4 linked regions of the Homo sapiens genome follow. The protein of the gene in region 4 interacts with the protein of the main gene of each other region in a biochemical or structural test. Each region holds a gene or a part of one and is shown on either strand. Other genes may lie near its edges.

Region 1 (4,210 bases), on a different chromosome or scaffold from region 4:
GTCCCAATGTGCTCAAAAAACTCCACATGAATGCTTCATGTCTAAAGAAAATCTCATTTCTTCTCAAGTATTCACATTTAATTTTCCTTTAAGTAGCTCTTCTTAGCTTTATAAGCATCAGTTCAGGTTGAGCAGGAAGTATGCTCAGGTATGAAAAAGCTTCCATGGACTGGAAGAGAGTTTCCTCCTCCTTCTGGCAATGAGCACATGTGAGTTGCTTTACCCGGGGTCTGAGGGAGGACAAACTCACCTGCATCATAGTCAGGGCCACTGGGAAGGAAAAAGCACTCTCAGATTTGAAGCATTTCTGACATTTTTGACAGGGATGGTAAATCATGCCAAGTGTATCTGGCTGACTATAAGTGACTGTCTGGATTCCCAAGCTGAGGCCATTTCTGTTGAGGCTGAGTCTGGGCTTAGTGGGAGAATGCTGTGATTGACTAGTGATGCTGTGATGGACATGCTGCTATCAGAAAGTAGTGTCATGTGAACCAAATACACTTCCCCTAATCTAAATTGATTTCAGGGAAGAATCTGTAAACAGTAACTTGATGGTAAGCTTCCTGAGTGCAAGTCCACGCCTTTTGTGTTTGTGTCTTCCTTGGTGCCTGACACTTTGAATATGTTCATATACATTAATGACTGGATGGGGGTCACACTTCACATCACTTGAGGTTTACCACATCAACTGATTTTTCCCATATTCAGGTACCTTAATAATGCTCTGGCAGGTGGACAGAGGCAGGCCCACCAGGCTGGTGCCATTAATGGACATGATCTGGTCACCGATATTCAGCTTCCCAGATTTCTCCGCAGGGCCACCATGCATCATGTTGGCAATGATCACGGTGGGGAGGATGGATCCCCAGCCAGACTCCACAATCACCACACCTAGGATTTCTCCTTTCTGCTTCTCTATGAAAACCTGGAAGGAGAAAAACATTTAGAAAACCTCCATCAGTGACCATCTGGGGTAGGTAGAAATGAAAGCCTCTCCCCCATTCCTGTCTTGCCTAAAGAAAGACACTTCCCTGGGGACACCAACCCAGATGAGTTCCTGTCTTCTCAGCATTCCGCATATTTGGAGTTTTTAAGAAATGAATTCACACAGGTCTACACTCTTTTGTAATTCACTCGTTTCACATAAGCAAACTTGCCTCAGCACACAACCATGAGGACCACCAGTTTTTTTTTTTTTTTTTTTTTTTTTTAATTTCTTCAGTCCTGTCCTCAGTGGCAGGGGATGAGGCTCTGTGGGTGGGTGGTGTGTTATGGTTTCTAGAAATAGCTTTTCAAATTCCATGCGCAGGTTCCCCCTCCCACAGTGCTTCCCCAATTCGCTCCGACATTTAATTTTCTTGAGTTAAAAATAAATAAACACACAGAAACACTTCTCTGCAAGGAAAAAGTTGAGAAAAAAGAAAAAGTGATGCTGAAGTTATCACAACCAAAAGGCTGGGTGTGCACACAGGAAGTGCATATCCTGGATACACAGACTTTTCACAACCTTCACTGGCAGGGCAGAGAAGACAGGGGTTGATGTTGGATACTTGCACTCTGGGGAGGCCTGCAGATATGCCACTAAAAGGTACCACACCTCTTGGAAGCACCCAACAGAGTGTGTATGTGTATTTTTGGGGGGCTTGACAAAGTCCCCTTCACAGGTTGGTGTCTGCTTCCCCCAGCTGCTGAAGCTTACAGTCAGCCCCTTCCCTGGAGAACTGTCCTTAGCTGAAAGGGAGACACATTCTGTTAAGGTTGAATTGTGTCCCCCCAAAATTTGTATGTTGAATTACCAACCCCCAGTGCCTTTGACTTAGATTGTGACTTTATTTGGAGATAAGGTCTTAGCAGAGGTAACCAATTTTAAATGAGGTGATTAATATGGACTCTAATCCAATATTACTCATGTCCTTATTTAAGAAGAGGAATGGTTGTCTGTCATGGGTATCAAAAAAAAAAAGAGGAAATTTGGACATAGGGACATGCATGGAGAAAGGCTGATGTGAAGACACAGCATGAAGACAGCCATCTACAAGCCAGAGAAAGGCTTGGAACAGATTCTTCTCTCACGGCTCTCAGAAGGAACCAATGCTAACAACACCTTGCTTTTGGACTTCTGGCCACAAGGTCTGTGAGACAATAGGTTTGTGTTGTTGAAGTCACCCAGTCCATGGTACTTTGTGACAACAGCCCTAGTAAATTCATATACCCCCTGTCCAGCCTTGGCCAATAACCGGCATGGGGTACAAAGGCTTGCCAGCTCCCTCGCTCCAAGGTGAGACAAATCTGTCCTGCAATATGTGCCATGGAGCTTCCCTCTGGACAGAAGGAAGCTCATGTCCAAGGGACCACACCCTTACTTGGTGTCCCACCACCAAGCTTCCCACATCCCTTCTGTTCTGAGGCACTCTCCCAACAAACCTCTGTGACAAGAATCCCTGCCTCAGGCTCTGCTTCTGGGGAATCTGACCTAAGACACCTGACAGACCCCAGTGGATCAAATGATCACTTTCTCATTAAAAGTTCTTTTTACCTATGGGATCAAGTCCAAACCCCTCAGCTGGACTTGCAGGCCCTCCAGTTCTGACCCAGATCTCAGGCCCATCTATCTCCTTTCCTGTGCCTACCTCCTGCTCTAGCCAAACCGTATTTCCTCATTCCCTAGACAAATGTGGAGCTTTCTGATCTCCAGGCTTCCAACCATTCCATAGACCCCACCCTCGGCTTGCCCCTACAATCCCCAGATCGCCAGACCAGCTTGGATAGCCTCATCTTCCTACAGGCATTCCTGAATAGCTCAGTTTGAAGCCACAGGCCATCCCCAGAGAAGCACAGCACCTCTTGTCTGAAACTTGAGATCTTCTCTGTTTGTCCAAGTGTAGTTGGTTTTGATTAGTGCCTGTACCTGGCACCATCATTTAACTTTTTCAGTGCCCTTACCTAGATTGCAGTGTTTGTACAAGCAGAGTTCAGGTCCTATCTGCCTCTGGGACCCACCCAAAACTTAGCTCAGGATGACCAGGAGCAGAGGATGTGCTGCCTCTCTGTTTACACCTGTCCACAATAGCATTTCATGACAGGGCCCCACAGCAGGGAGCGAGAGATGGGGGTGAACGACTTCATGATGTCCTGCCAATACGGCACTCCTCACCATTGATCTCCCTTCACTTCCGCGGCAGGGTGCCCCACTTTCCAAGCCCCTGCCCAGCTGACCCAGCCTGGAGAACAGCTTCAGGTAAGTACCCACATCTTTACAGTTTTCCGACTTGGAGAAGTGGATCAGGTCATCGTTGTACATGTCCTGGGTATTGAGCAGGTCACTATACTCCTTCTGGCTGAGATCTTCGGGGTTAATCCCATTGGCCCTGAGGAATTCCTGGTATGCCACGCTAAATGCCTGTCCGATGGACTGTGCAATCAGCTGAGCCTGGAACAGCAGCCAGAGAGGAAAGATGGTCAGCAGGGCAGTGCACCTGGTGAGCGGCCTGGCGCACTTCCCACCTGAACAATGGCCCTCCTGGAGTCTGAGGAAACCCTAGACATCACGCCTGCTGGGCCAGTGGTTCTACGTGGGGCTACCAGTGCCCACCAGGGGCAATTTTCAGAAAGACTGGGGATGTTTTTGATTATGACAATGATCATAAGGGAGCTACCGGCATTCAGCAGACAGGAGTCAGAGATGCTGAATATCCTGCCATGCAAAAAACAGCTCGATACAGTGATGAGTCATTCTATACCCTGCACCATCTTCACAGATCCCTCTGGACATTCATGTGCATGCAATACTTGTTTACAGTTACCTGAGTCCAGGATTCAACTCCAATTTATACATAAACACAAAGACTTTGTATGGCTCTAATACACATCGAACATTTCAAGAATAATACCGTCTGAATTGAGAGATGATGTTATTTTGCTTCATTCAGTACTTCACCAGGAGGAAACTTCATGACTTTGGAAAATCAACATCAGCGCTGCTGTGATATCTGTGTTGCCGATAAATCACATCCCTATCAACCTGCACGTGTGCTGTCATGCATGGTGATTATGCATGTGCTTGTAGATACATACATATTATTTGGCCCTCAATTTGAAATGTCAACTGGAAAGTTTATGATATCCCACTGCACACTGCGTTCTCCTACATCCAAGCTTAATCAAGTAGGCATAAGCATCTCACTATCTCATTATGCCTTTCAGAATGGTT
Region 2 (4,210 bases), on a different chromosome or scaffold from region 4:
CAGTCTGGTCTCGAACTCCTGACCTCAGGTGATCCACCCGCCTCTGCCTCCCAAAGTGCTAGGATTACAGGCATGAGCCACCGCACCAGGCTGAAAGTACATTTTTAAGCAGTAAAATCTAATAACACAGTTAACCAGAAAATCTTTCCAACATTCAGCAGTACTAGTATCTTGCATTCTAGGAACCGGAACATTCCTTTACTAACTGGCTTTTCCATTAAAGCTGCTGATGCCTAGAGTAATAAAAACACGACTGCACTGGACAGTGTTCTTAAAGTTCACATGACTGGGATGCTTCCCAGAAAATAGCTCCATTATCTTCACATTTTCATCCTATAATAATTTGTAATCCAGGAAGGCAAGGTTTGTATTTTCTTCTAGGCAGAAAATAAGTTAAAGAACCAGACTGTATGGATCCCAGAGCCTGACCCCTTGACCGAGTGTCTGGTCACTTGATATTACAAATCTAGACTTCCTGATAAATGGCCCTGTAGTGACCTTGTTACTGGGATCCCTAGATGCTGGTTTCCTGCCTGGTTTCTCTGCATCCAAGTCCCTGTCTGCATCTACTGTCCATCCAATGCCCATCCTCTTCTGCCTGGGTCCCCAATGCCACCTGCTTCCCTGCCTTTGCCAAAGGTCAGTGACTTAGTCATCATCTCAGAACTAGGGCTGGAACAGGGATGTGGGCGTTGGTGCAGGAAGAAGAGGTGGAAGTGTGAGCACTAGAGGAAAGAAGATAAGGTCTAGGGTGACTCCCGCCTCCTGCCCTTCTTTGCTTACACACCCTGGCTCTTAAATTCTATTAGAAATTGGTCAGTGGGAAGCACAGCTGGCTTGTTCATCTCCCTGTCCATCTATCATAAACTCTGTCCCTGCTCCTCCATCCAGCCAGGGTATGTGAGTGACGTTCCAGACTCTGCCAGTCCTTGTGGCAGACAGGTACCATAGTGAGGTGAGAGCTGACAAAAGGCCGGTGTGGCAGGCACAAAGCTGGGAGTGGCATCCTACTGGAGGTGGGACCACAGAGGTGTGGGGACCAAAGCCACAAACATCAGGCCTGCAGGCCATGCAGAGGTTAGTTTTGTCTTTATCCAGGTAGAAGATTCCTAGTGCTAGAGGGTTTTCCATGCTGGCTCACCCTGCACTGATCTCAACCTCGAAGTCACTCTTAAATCCGGACGTGACCACACGTCCGGATTTACCTAGGGCAGTCCCGGCTTAGACCCGTCAGTCATGTGCAATTATTAATAGGACCCCTTTTTATTCTCAAATTGTTCTGGTTGGGATGATAAATTCTAGTTGCACTGTTCTTGGGGGCCTAGGCCTGTGAAGTCAGTGCTGCAGTTAGAGAAGTCTACCCATGATTAGCAGGGACGCCCAGCCTGATGAGTCTCACCCCTCATCAAACATTCCATTTGCCTCTCCAGTATCCCTGCCAAACCATCATCTGGCTTCTGCTTGTATATCTGCAAGGACAGCAGGCTCACTATCTTCTCAGGAAGCCTCTCTTTTTTGGGGAAAGCTTTGTTATAAAAATAGCAGGATTCAAACCTGTATACAGTATGACTGCAACTAAATAACAACATCCAGGCCGGGTGGGGTGGCTCATGCCTATAATCCCAGCACTTTGGGAGGCCGAGGTAGGTGGATCACTTGAGGTCAGGAGTTCTAGACCAGCCTGGCCAACATGGCAAAACCTCATCTCTATTAAAAATACAAAAAATTAGCTGGGCGTGGTCGTGGACACCTGTAATCTCAGTTACTTGGGAGGTTGAGGCAGGAGAATCACTTGAACCCAGGAGGCAGAGGTTGCAGTGAGCCGAGATCGCGCCACTGCACTCTAGCCTGGGTGACAGAGCAAGACTCCATCTCAAAAAAAACAAAACAAAAACAAAACAAAAAAAACCCCACATCACTCAGCAGGGAAAGGCGTGGGGCTGGAAGAAAGCAGAAAACCTGCTGACTTTTCCCCTTGCACCTCCTTCCATCTCTCCCTCTCCTCATTCAACAAATATTTACTGAGTGCATTTGATGGTCCAGGGACTGTGCTTGGCACTGGGGACAAAATGGTGAGTTAAAACAGACTCAATGTGAGGGGCATTCTACAAAATAATTGGCTTGTACTTTCCAAAAACGTCAAGGTCTGGCTGGGCATGGTGGCTCACGCCTGTAATCCCAGCACTTTGGGAGGCCGAGGTGGGCGGATCACCTGAGGTCGGGAGTTGGAGACCAGCCTGACCAACACGGAGAAATCCCGTCTCTACTAAAAATACAAAAAATTAGCCGGGCGTGGTGGCACATGCCTGTAATCCCAGCTACTCAGGAGGCTGAGGCAGGAGAATTGCTTGAACCCAGGAGTCGGATGCTGCAGTGAGCTGAGACTGAGCCACTGCACTCCAGCCTGGGCGACAGAGCGAGACTCCATCTTGGAACAACAACAACAAAAAAAGTCAAGGTCCTGAAGGACCAAGAACAATTGGGGAACTGTCTTAGTTTAAAGGAAACTAACGAGACATGACAACCGTACGCAACCCATTTATAAGAGTTTTTTTTTTTTTGCTATAAAAAAGGACATCACTAAGACAACTGGCAAAACCTAACATCTAGGCCGGGCGCAGTGGCTCGGGCCTGTATCCCAGTACTTTGGGAGGCTGAGACAGGCAGATCACTTGAGGTCAGGAGTTCGAGACCAGCATCCAACATGGTGAAACCCTGTCACCACAAAAAATACAAACATTAGCCGGGCATGGTGGCACACGCCTGGAATCCCAGCTACTTGGGAGGCTGAGACAGGATAATTGCTTGAATCCAGGAGGCGGAGGTTGCAGTGAACTGAGATCACACCACTGCACTCCAGCCTGGGTGGCAGAGTGAGGGACACTCTCTCTCAAAAAAAAAAAAAAAAGTATATAAAACTTGAGGTTTATAGATTAAACAATGTTGTATCACTATTAATTTATTGATTCTAAAATTTGTATTGTAGTTACGGAATATCATCGCTTTTAGGAAATATATGTAGGGGGAAAGGAGGCATTGATAAATAATCCTCAAATGGTTCAGGATAGATATATATGTACACAGGGATAAAATAAAAAGAATAAAATGGTAATGTTTGGGGAATCTGGGTGAAGAATTTATGGGACTTCTTTGATTTATTCTTACAACCTTCCTATGGGTCTGAATTGTATCAAAATAAAACATTAAAAGAAAAAAAAATAAAACTTAGAAAAAGTTTTTTTAAAAAAGAGACCCTGCCTTCACACAGCTTACAGTGTAGCCGGGAGACAGGTACTAATACAAATAATTACATTAATTAACTGCAAAATTGCCACTAGGAAAAGTGCTATAATGGAGAGAGATCTGGTGGCATGAACATTTATAGCAACAATTTAACTCAAGTCAGGAAGGTGAGCAAAGGCTCTGCAATCATGGAGCTGAGACCCACAGGATGAAGTAATCAGTGGGGAGGGGGAGAAGGTCCCAGGCTCTTGCAGTCCCTGCAGCAGGAAGGAGCACGGTGAGGTGAGGGCTCAAAGAGCATGAACATAGGGCCTGCAGGAGATGCTGAGAGATCAGCTTTGTCTTCATTTTGAGAAAAATAGGAGTGTATGGAAGACTCCCCCGTCTGTGGAGTAGAGAATCCACTGGAAGCAGGAGAGGGCATGTGCAGATCATGGCAGTGCTGACAGTGGACCAGCTGCTTTCAGAGAAGCATCATGCATAATTTTTCTTGTGTTCCCTGACACTTTATTTTCTACAAGAACCATGAATGCATTTGATAACCAGAGCAGGGGAGGGGACTCGGGGGAGCCAGTGGGGAAGACTGAGCTCAGAGGCCAACCTCCCCTCCCCAGGCCCAATGGTGGCTGGCGGTCAAAAAACAGCTGATGGAGCTGGTTGCTGCCTCCCTCACCGAGAACCTCTGGGCTAGCCCTTGAGCTGATGTGGCTGAGGGAGGTGACATGCATGGGCCAGGTCTCCAACCCCACTCCTACGCCAGGGGACCCTCATCAGCACAGCATTCAGGCAGCCATGGCCCCTGCACAGTCCTGGATGCTCCCTCTTGGAATATCCCTTCAGTCCTGAGAACCGGGACCTGTGGTCCTGGCTGAGGAGGGACCTTCACTCACCCACAGCGACTCTCAGCACTGAACACAGATCAAAGCACTTGTCTGGAGGGTCAGGGGTCTGACCACAAAGTGAGGGA
Region 3 (4,933 bases), on a different chromosome or scaffold from region 4:
GCGCAGCTCACGCGATGTAGGCCTCGCTGCGGTTGAGCTTCCGGGCCAGGAAGCGCGCGGCGGCGCGGCTCGGGATCCGCACCATGGAGAGCTCCTTGGCGTAGCGCGTGCTGGCGCACGGGTTGGGGCAGGCGCACGAGTCCTTGCGAAGCATGGCATCTGCGGGCCACCGGGCCGCGTCAGACGCCCGCGGGCGGAGCGGGGCGGACGGGAGGTGGGGGAGGCTCGCCCTTACCTATGGCCGGGTGGGCACAGTTCTTGTACTGCTGGGGGCTGCACACTGGCACGTCGCCTGCGGGTACCGGGGAGATGGCTTTAGAAGCAGCCTCAGCTCCCTGGGCCCTGCCCGCCATGGGACGAAAACCCCAGCCCCTCACCTGGCATGTACACCATTCGGCAGCCGCACTTCCGAGCCACGTAGCGGGTTTCGCAGGCCAGGCGACACCCCATAAGGGTATAGGGAGGGCTGGGGCTGGGGCTGGGGGAGCCTAGGGGATCAGAGGGCTCTGGCTCATAGTTGGGGTTCAGAGATGCTGAACTGCAATCGCCCCAGGGCGGTGGCAGGAAGCTCAGCTGTGGGGGGACAGGGTTAAGGAGGCTTCCCGGAGAGCGTGAGAGGCCAGCTGGGGAGAGGCCCCTAGACAGGTCTGAGGAGCTGAGGGTTTAGGGTCTGAGGTGGTGTGGGCTTGAAGTAGTAGGTGTGGAGGCACACGGAAGGGTACCTGCTGCTGCTGGCAAGAAACAAAGGTCTGGTAGCCCGGGGACACCCCCAAGCCCAGCTGATCGATGATGGGCGGCTCCTCCTGGCTGTGGATCTGCACTCGGATCCCCACCTCAAACGGGGTCTCCTCTGTCGGGGAGGGACCTGTGAGGCCTGACCTGTGTGGTCAGGTCTCCTGCCCAACCAGACAAGACCTCTCACTGCAGCCCCTCTCCCCAGGACTGGGATGAGCCAGCCCAGCCCCTTTCACAGGTTCTGGGGGAACACCCTGACACCTCCTCTCCTCCTCTCCTTCCCCTAGCCTTTTGCACTCCATCCGTGCCCTCCCCCAGCCTCATTTGTGTGCTCCCTACCATTGTCCCTCCACACAGGTAGATATTCCTCCTGCTGCACGTCCAGCATGATGTCCAGCCCATTGCCCATGCCACCCCTAGTAGTGGTGAGCAGCTCTGCCCCATCAGCGCCAGAGTTAAATGTGTAGCACTTTCCCATCCGGGTGAAGATCTGGGGCGGGCAGACAGGGTGATGGCCATCTCCCCCAGGCAGGCACATGGTCATGGGACCTCTCCCCACCTCATGGTATGTTTGCGTCTCTTCTTTGAATACTGAAGCCCGCATCTCAATGCCCCCAGCCCCACGCTCCAGTGGGCACATGTTGCAGGACGCTCTTGGGAGCCCATCAACTCAGCTCCTCCACCCCGCCAATCCCCACCAAAGCCCAGGGCACAGCCTACAGGTTTTTCTGTGTTTCTCTGGGAACTGCAGGAAAAGGAAATGGGCCCCTGTGGCTGTCCTCCGGGGCTGGCAGTATGTTGAAAAGGCAGAGGGAAAGCAAGCCCCCCCCACCTCCTGGCAGAGATAGGGGTCTTCTGCCCCAGAATGGTCCCACCATGGAGGACCCCCAGCCCCAGGAGCAGGGCCTCCCTGGGCCAGACCTCAGGCCTAGGGCCAGCCGGGGTCAGTGTGGCCTCACATGCTCCCCTCGGGCTGGGAGACAGAGAAAGCCCCAAGGAGGACAGCTTCCTGGGCTGCACGGAGTGGCACTGGGGGGTGGGGAGTCCATGGCTGGTAGGAAGGAAGAGGTCCCCTGGCTTTGGGGGAGCCTGTGCTGGCTAGGGAATTGTGGGTGCTGGGCAGGGACTGGTCGGCTCTCTGGGTCCCTGGCAGGATAGGTAGGGAGGTCAGCTCACCGTGGTGAAGTTCTCAGGCCCACAAGGTTGGCCACGGAAGCGACAGTCCAGCAGCATGTCATCCAGGGAGTGCCCAGCACGGGCATAGAGTTGCGCCATGTCAAAGGTGGGACTGGGCATGAAGCCGGGCGGTGCAGGGGGCCGGCCCAGGGCGCGCAGGAAGGCGGCGTGCTCTGCGGGATCCAGGCCCAGCAGCGCAGACCCAGCCCAGTGCAGGTCGTTGGGCGTTAGGCGCGAGCGGCGCAGTGGGTTGATGTTGCACAGGGTGACAGCCGGGAAGATGAGCCGGTGGCTTTCTCGCTCATCCAGGGCAGTCTGGTGGTGGAACTCCCTGTAGTAGCGCACCCTCTCAGCCACCTGGTAGAGGAAGGTGGCCACTGACAGGACCACGGCCGCTGCCCACATCCCCCGGCGCAGGCTCAGGCTGCCTGGCCCGAAGACGTGGCCCAGCCCGTGCATCGAGCAGTTGCTGGCGAACACGCGGATGTCCGAGGCTGGCCGCCGGGCCTCCTCTGGGCCTGAGGTGGGCTTCATGGCCAGAACCCAGGAGCGGAACCAGCTACAGAGGCTTGGAAGAAGCGAGAGAGAGTCAGTCAGGGGGCTAAGGAGGCTAAGATAGGATTCAGGAGGCCAGGCAAGGAGAGGAGAAGAGAGGGTGGGAGACAGCCAAGGTTGGAAGGCAGGGAGGCACTAGCCTGGCAGGATTGGAGGAGGTGATCTGGCCGGTCAGGTCCCACTGTTCCTTCCCGAGGAACAGGCGGTGGCTCCACTGGGCTAGGCACTGGGCTGGGGACTCCGCAGCAGACCAGGTGGGACGTAGCTGACCGTGGCAGGCAGGGGCTGCGGAGCGGTGCTGAGCCGGCGGTGCTGAGCCGGCGCTGCTGCAGAGGATTGGGTTTCAGCAGTAGGGGGGAAAGGGGGCCGACAGAGCAGTCTGGGGGGTAGGAGAGGTCCCTAGGGCCCCAGGCTGAGCCATTAGTGCAGCATGGAGGGGGGCATGGCTGTCCAAGACGAGAGGCGCCAGGAGGAAACCGCAGTAATCCTAGGGAGAGCTTGAGAAAAGCCCAGAGGTAGATTGGGCCTGGAGATGCCTTGGGGCCCCCTAGGCTCCCAGTTGCAACCCCTGTACACTGGCCGCGAGGGTCAGTCGCTGACCCCTGGCCTAGCTCCTCTCTCCTTTTGCCTCTGCGGCCTTCCCTCTAGCTTCACCCAGGATCTGTTCCTTCACGAATACCAGAGCTGGCTCTTGGCCAAGCTGGGAAATGGTTGGAAGGCTGGCATCAGCAGATCTCTTCTTTCTGTGCCCCTAGCATCTCAGCCTACACTGGATGGCCAGGGCACTCTTCATGTCCCACTTCCAGGGCCCGTCTGTTTCCTAAGTGTCCCTCTCTCCCTAGGGAGTCAAAGCCTACCTCCCCACACTCAGGCCTCTGAGGATGTTGGCCTCTACAATGGTTATGGGCTCACCTGCCACCCCAGGTAGAACATGGGTGCCCCACCTGCCACCCTCCCGGGTACCACGGGTACCCCACCTGCCATCTCAGGCACAACATGGGTATTCTGTGATTTCCCATCTTACGCTGCTATATCCAGGACCTGGAAAACCTACATTTTTCCAAAGGGCTGCATACCACCCATTATGTGCACATACCATAGTTTATTTAATGACTCCCCCACTGATGGGCACTGGGGGTGTCCAGTCTTTCCATTACAAACAATGTTGCCGTATCATCACACAGATGTGAACTCCCAGGACTTTGGTGGGCTTTTTTTGACCATGAGTGGTAGAAACATGGTTCCACCAGCCAAACGTGTGCACACACCATGCTGCAACTGCTGGGCCACCTGTCTGTCCTCCCAACAGGACACAAGCTTCATGGGGGCAGGGACTGTCCTCATTCCCCATCGTGGGCTCAATGGCACATGACAGGTGCTTGATTAATAAACACTTTGGAAGGACTGAGTACCATGGTTACAGCACAGGCGTACCAGCTCCCCAGAGCCACAGTGCCATGCTTTGCAAGTATTTACTGTAGATGATCCCACTCACACTCTCAAAACAGGCATTCAGCATCAAGCACAGCTAGGCTCCCACTCTCCACTGTGGAGCGAAGGCCGAGGCGAGGTTAGGAAGACGGCGCGGCTCCTGCGGTCTAGCTCTTCCAGCTGGACTAGCCAAGGGGTTTCACTGCTTCTCTAGGGGGCGGGTGAAGGGCTGGATTTAAAGAAGCCGCCCAGAAGATATAAATCTGGTGTCAGAGGCATTTTGGGCAGCCTGAGGCTGATGACTGAGTGGGTGAAGCAGGAACCACCTTGGCTGGCTGCCTGGTGAGGGAGGGGTCAGGCCAACAAGCAGGGCCCCAGCAGGGCTTGTGGACTTGCCAGCTGAGGCCCTACTCTGGGCTGCCCTAAGGAGGGGTTTAGCTGTGAACCAGCCCCAGGCTCTGCTCCTGGACCTCCACTGCTTAAAGACACAGCCTCTGATCTGTCAGGAAGTGGGATATCAAATCAGGGTGGATGTGGGCCTGGGGTTTTTGGATGGCTTGTCCCCAAAGCACCATCTAGTTCTAAACCACACCCACAAGAGCCCGTGGGTCCCACTCTGGCTCCTGCACGCAAACTTGAGCCACTGCTGCCTCTTCCAGGCTGGCCTCCCAGCAGCACCAGCTGCTCCATCAATGCACTGTATCACACCCCTGAAAGAGGGTACCACCCTTCTTTACACAGGGTAAATCCAGAATGCTTGCCTGGCTGTGAAGGTGCATTGCAGGTACCACCTCTTCTCCTGCCCAGGGGAACAGGGCACCGTGTAGTCCCACAGCCTGGATGTGGCTGGATAGGGGAAGGATCCCAGTAGGAAGTGACAGCGGCACCAACATGGGGAGGGCTGATGCATCTGCAGCAGTGCAGGGACACGAGGTCCTGCTGGGGCACCAGTTCAGCCAAGGACCTACTTGTGTGCCTTTCCAGGCCCCTCAGAAGCCAGCTGGAGCCTAGCCCCCTCATCCACAGTCTCAGGGCC
Region 4 (4,920 bases):
GTTCTTTAAGTGACTTTTCCTGGTCTCAAAGGTAAAGAGATTGAATTATTTTTTGTCTCTCCCAAAATATTTAGGAACATAGCTCTCCAGACTGTTTTTTCCTCTCTCTTCCTCTCTCTCTCTCTCTCTCTCTACGCACACACACAGACGCACACACACAGACACACACACAGAATCTTACATACTACAATTTACATAAATGTCAGTTATTTTTAATTGTGACAGTTATTTTTAATGATAGATCTGTGCCAAATGTGATACTTTAATTTTCATGCAGTTTCTTTTTTAAACATTTTTATTACAGAAAGCTTGTTACTGTGGAGAAGCAGGATAATGAAACATTTGGATTTGAAATTCAGGTGGGCAATTTTCACATTTTCTAGACTTCCAAGGAAGAAAGTGGCACCGGTAGTGTCATGTTATGTGCAAAGAAAAAATGAAGTTAGGATTAGAGAATGATGGAGCCTATGACTTTTATTCAGTGTGTGGCTGTTTGGGGGTAGTTTTTCAGTGTGTTGAGTACTATTAAGGAAAGAAAACATTGAAGATGATAACAAAACCTCTGCGATATGCTCAGCAGTTTGTGCTTAGTTGCTTCAGTCTTCCCTTAAGTCCCAGACTGATCAGCTAGGTTGGTATCAGCTAGGTCTTAGATAAGAGAGTGAAATACATTTTACAGATGTGTACTTGATATATTTGCATGTGTTTTGTATAATCATATTGTTATACTGTGTATCAGATTTTAAGTATTTACTTTGGCATTCAAGAGACACTCGAAAGACTATACATCTGTGTATATAGAATGCATATATTCATGGATAGCTCCTGGTATGTTTTGCAACTAGAGTTCATATTGTACATAATGAGCAATTTGTAGCTTTTTTTCCTAATGACAATGCTTTATAATTGTTATTTGAAACACTTGAGAACATTTGGCTCTACTTGCAGATTGCCTCATGCTGTAGGAAATTTTTAAGTCTTTATAAGTTTCAGCATAATTGCCTAAGAATTTCATTGCTTATTAGCTGTCTGCTTTTTCATGAGCACATTTGTAAAATGGGTGAGGTAGGTCAAATGAAGTCTAACCCAATTAAGTGCAACAGTAGTAGCTTAAGCATTTCTGTTTTTTTTTTCCATAGTACGTTTGCATGTCTTTTGGATGTGTTTTGCATAATCATATTCTTACACTCTATATCAGATTTTAGATCTTAGCTTTACTGCTGCTTTCAGAAAACTCTGGTGTGATATCAGCCCCACAATTGGAAAGTCAGTGTTTATTTTAAGATTAGGAACAGGAAACTGCTAAGAAAAACATGTTTTATGAGTAAAGAAACAAAATGGAACTTTAGCTGCAATGAAGACAGAGAAGGCACTTTGAAAAGAGGATCACTTCTACTTTCCTAACTCCTGTACTTTTAAATTTGGAGGAATCTGTAATTCACCACAGTAACTGGTGAAATCTATAGGTTTTAGAAGCATAGTGCTCCCTCTTACTCCCCGGTCATATGAACTACTCCCTATTCTGTTGTAGAGACACTGCTTTTTGTCACTGCTTCTTTTTAAAGGAAAATTATCCTCAAGGATGTGCAGCAGTGGCTACTGAAAACTGGATAAACGACTACTCACCTTTCTTTATTTTTCTTATACTGCCATAATAATGTCACTACTTTCTTAAGTTTTTCTCCCATACCATAAACACTTATTCTCCGTGGAGCAAGAGTCAAAACTATGTCAGGCCACAACACCACTGAACTTTTGTAGATCAACATGAACTAATGGCACCTCTAAATGGCAGCATGTAGGTGTTATCTCAGTGATGCAGGAACCCACACTCCTGTAAATTCCCTCTGGTATATGCTCTCCATTGTCAAATACACACCATAATCTATTCCCTAGTACTCATCAGATTTGCAGCAGTTAACAAATAGGAGACATGCTTCTGGGAACTTTTTGAAAATCAGATAGAACCTCATGTACCCATATTGTGCATGCAGTGTGAGTACATGTTTGGGATGTGGCCTACTAGAGGAATGACACTTTGGAAGAGACCAGATCCATGGTTCTCCATGGGAGCTAGTTTTATGCTGCTTATCAGAATCGTGCAGCCCAATAGGAATGCAGACTTTGGACTCATGCACACCTGAATTCATATCCTCCTAATGCCTTATGGGGTCCTTAGGAGTTTTAAATGAAATAATACATGCAATGTACCTAGTGATGTGCCTTACCAATAGAAGATCCACAAATGACAGGTGTTAGAATGAATGTCACTGGGCATGAGAAAGGACAATGAGATCTTTGTGTCTCTAAGAAATGCAGGTGATCATTGTGTCACTGATCCCTTAATGGGAGCTAGAAGACTGGGTAAGAGAAAAAAGCATCCAATTAATACTTTCTGTAGCTTTGGGGTTTCTGTTTTTTTCTATTTCTAACTACCATATTTTACACCCAATGTGAACATATATGGAGGTGCCAGCTACATAAATCAACATGTTTCTACTGCACTGTACTTACTTTGATCTCTGGGAATGGAGGGTAGAGTCTCACTGCTAATGAGAATTGTTAGAACAGTGGTTTCCCAAAGGAGTGTCAGTTGTATATTTTATTCATGTACCACATGAACTAGATCAGTCTTTCATCTCCAGAAGGGTCTAGGCTATACTGAGAAGACCCCTGGCAGGAAAGCTGTCAATGAAGTTTCTGACATAGATGGGAACATAGTGCATGATCTTTTAAAGTCCCTTCTACCTTTAAGATATGGGGATTCTAAGTGCCTTATAGATTAGATAGAAGTCCTTTAGAGGTGAACAGACCCAAGTTTCTAGAAGTTGCTTGCATGTGGCTGACTTGTGATGCCTCAGGGATTATTGAATAAGAAAGAATGAACATCAGACATCAATTTTTTCACAAGGAAGTACTACTTTAATGTAGCTTAATTTTAGGAATCAGATGTTTAAAAGACGTACTCTACTCAGAACACTGATTTTGCTTCTAAGTGGAACTAGACTTCATAATTTAAATGTGTGAAAAAAAGAAAATTATATTTGTTATAGGTCATTGGGACACTATATCTAGCAAACATTTATTCAGTGTTTTGGTATAATTAAAAATAAAAAAACCCACCACCACCAAACTACTTGTGCCTAATTGAGGCAAGAGTTGAAGCTTAACTTTTTCTAATTTAGTTGGGTGACTAATGAACCGGTGAGGATTCAGGACAGGCATACCAGAGGGTGCTCAGAAATGAAGGTAATTGAGTCAATTATAGTACTTTTGAATAAATGCAGGGCAGATTGTCATTATGTGCAGAACTCTGATTTAAAATAATCATTGTTGGCATGTCTCCTTGCTGCATGTGTACAATTTCATACTCCTATAATGAGTGTTTTAGCTTGGGAGAACCACTTAGGGATTTTTCTCATTGCACTTGGCCATCGTTGTTTTATCCCATTGGGAAATGAGAAACTCAATTTTTAAAAATAAATCGTGATAGCATCAGGTGATATCTTGGGCTTGAAAATATAAAATCTTGAGCCACTCTCATTTCACTTTCTTTCTCATGACAGATGTCTTTATGAATGGAGTTGGCTACAGATTGTCTGGTAGAATTGCAAAATTGATACCTTGATTTAGTTTATAGTGGAAATCCTTTGTCCTTTGAACTTACCTATTATACTGCTTAATGATAATTGACATCATTTTAAATTTTGGCAAATAGATGTTGAGGTTGTTAAATAGTAACTATATATCATCTTAATTTTTACAGTCTTACAGGCCCCAGAATCAGAATGCCTGCTCCTCGGAAATGTTCACTTTGATATGCAAAATACAGGAGGACAGCCCAGCTCACTGTGCTGGCCTGCAAGCTGGTAACTTAAATTTTTGCTCATGTTAGGAATCATTTAAATGGAAAGAAAATAAAATGTTTTGAGAGTGAAGGTCAGGATGTATTTGTTGCTTTGAGTTTTCTTGGCTCCTTTATGTTTTTAAGACTTGGAGCTGCTTGTTTCATTTGCATGTCAGGAGGGATTATTTAACTAACCAACATAACACTCATTTTTCTTGGCATCTCCCAGGTGATGTCCTTGCAAATATCAATGGTGTGAGCACAGAAGGTTTTACCTACAAACAAGTCGTTGACCTGATCAGATCGTCCGGAAACCTGCTAACGTAACTATCTGTCTAGTTCCCGTGGGGCTTCAAAATGTTATGTTTTCTCATAAAGCCTGATGAGTGAATAAATAGGCCTTTTGTTCAGCATTACAAGACGGAGTGAGGCAGTGCACCGGAGCTTTAGAGTGGGGTACAAACATTATCAGTTCCTTTTGTTTCTCAAGATTCCTCACACTTGAACATACTGTCAACATCTGAAGTCAGAGGACATCAATAGCCCAAACGTCTGTGTGGGAAGGATGGCCTTTACAAATGTATTTTTTTAATGTCAAATTCAATTAAACTGGCACACATTCTCTTTAAACTGGGAAGAACTGATCCAATTTTCATGGTTGATATAATCCTGTAGCTAAAACAAATCAAAGGTCAGAAGGGCTGAGTTTTTCCTCTTATGTGACAAGCCACCTGTTTTTCTCTTCTAGTGTTCCATTTGGAAGGAAGAATAGTCTGTTCAACCCTCCCCACCCTGAAACACACATACTCACACCACATGTTCCAAATGTTCCAAACTTCTTTTTTTTTTTTTTTTTTTTGAGACGGAGTCTCGCTCTGTCGCCCTGGATGGAGTGCAGTGGCGCGATCTTGGCTCACTGCAAGCTCTGCCTCCCAGGTTCACGCCATTCTCCTGCCTCAGCCTCCCTAGTAGCTGGGACTACAGGCGCCCACCACCATGCCCGGCTAATTTTTTGTATTTTTAGTAGAGACGGGGTTTCATCGTGTTAGCCAGGATGGTCTCAATCTCCTGAC

What was found. The genes of interacting proteins can lie anywhere in the genome.
Region 1: the proteins of CYTIP (region 4) and APBA1 interact in a test that uses a peptide from one of them, tested with the Homo sapiens proteins (one large-scale study listed by IntAct).
Region 2: the proteins of CYTIP (region 4) and PTPN3 interact in a test that uses a peptide from one of them, tested with the Homo sapiens proteins (one large-scale study listed by IntAct).
Region 3: the proteins of CYTIP (region 4) and ASIC3 interact in a test that uses a peptide from one of them, tested with the Homo sapiens proteins (one large-scale study listed by IntAct).

The regions. Positions count from the first base shown.
Region 1 is NC_000009.12:69,448,872-69,453,081, forward strand, and holds part of APBA1 (amyloid-beta A4 precursor protein-binding family A member 1), read right to left. Parts: intron 3,431-4,210; coding exon 3,251-3,430; intron 926-3,250; coding exon 713-925; intron 1-712. UniProt on the Homo sapiens protein: Putative function in synaptic vesicle exocytosis by binding to Munc18-1, an essential component of the synaptic vesicle exocytotic machinery. May modulate processing of the amyloid-beta precursor protein (APP) and hence formation of APP-beta.
Region 2 is NC_000009.12:109,488,308-109,492,517, forward strand, and holds part of PTPN3 (tyrosine-protein phosphatase non-receptor type 3), read right to left. Parts: intron 1-4,210.
Region 3 is NC_000007.14:151,046,398-151,051,330, reverse strand, and holds the start of ASIC3 (acid-sensing ion channel 3), read right to left. Parts: upstream 2,801-4,933; 5' UTR 2,446-2,800; coding exon 1,912-2,445; intron 1,226-1,911; coding exon 1,075-1,225; intron 851-1,074; coding exon 723-850; intron 574-722; coding exon 378-573; intron 293-377; coding exon 236-292; intron 160-235; coding exon 12-159; intron 1-11. UniProt on the Homo sapiens protein: Forms pH-gated heterotrimeric sodium channels that act as postsynaptic excitatory receptors in the nervous system. Upon extracellular acidification, these channels generate a biphasic current with a fast inactivating and a slow sustained phase.
Region 4 is NC_000002.12:157,429,809-157,434,728, reverse strand, and holds part of CYTIP (cytohesin-interacting protein), read left to right. Parts: coding exon 1-31; intron 32-304; coding exon 305-359; intron 360-3,766; coding exon 3,767-3,869; intron 3,870-4,076; coding exon 4,077-4,170; intron 4,171-4,920. UniProt on the Homo sapiens protein: By its binding to cytohesin-1 (CYTH1), it modifies activation of ARFs by CYTH1 and its precise function may be to sequester CYTH1 in the cytoplasm.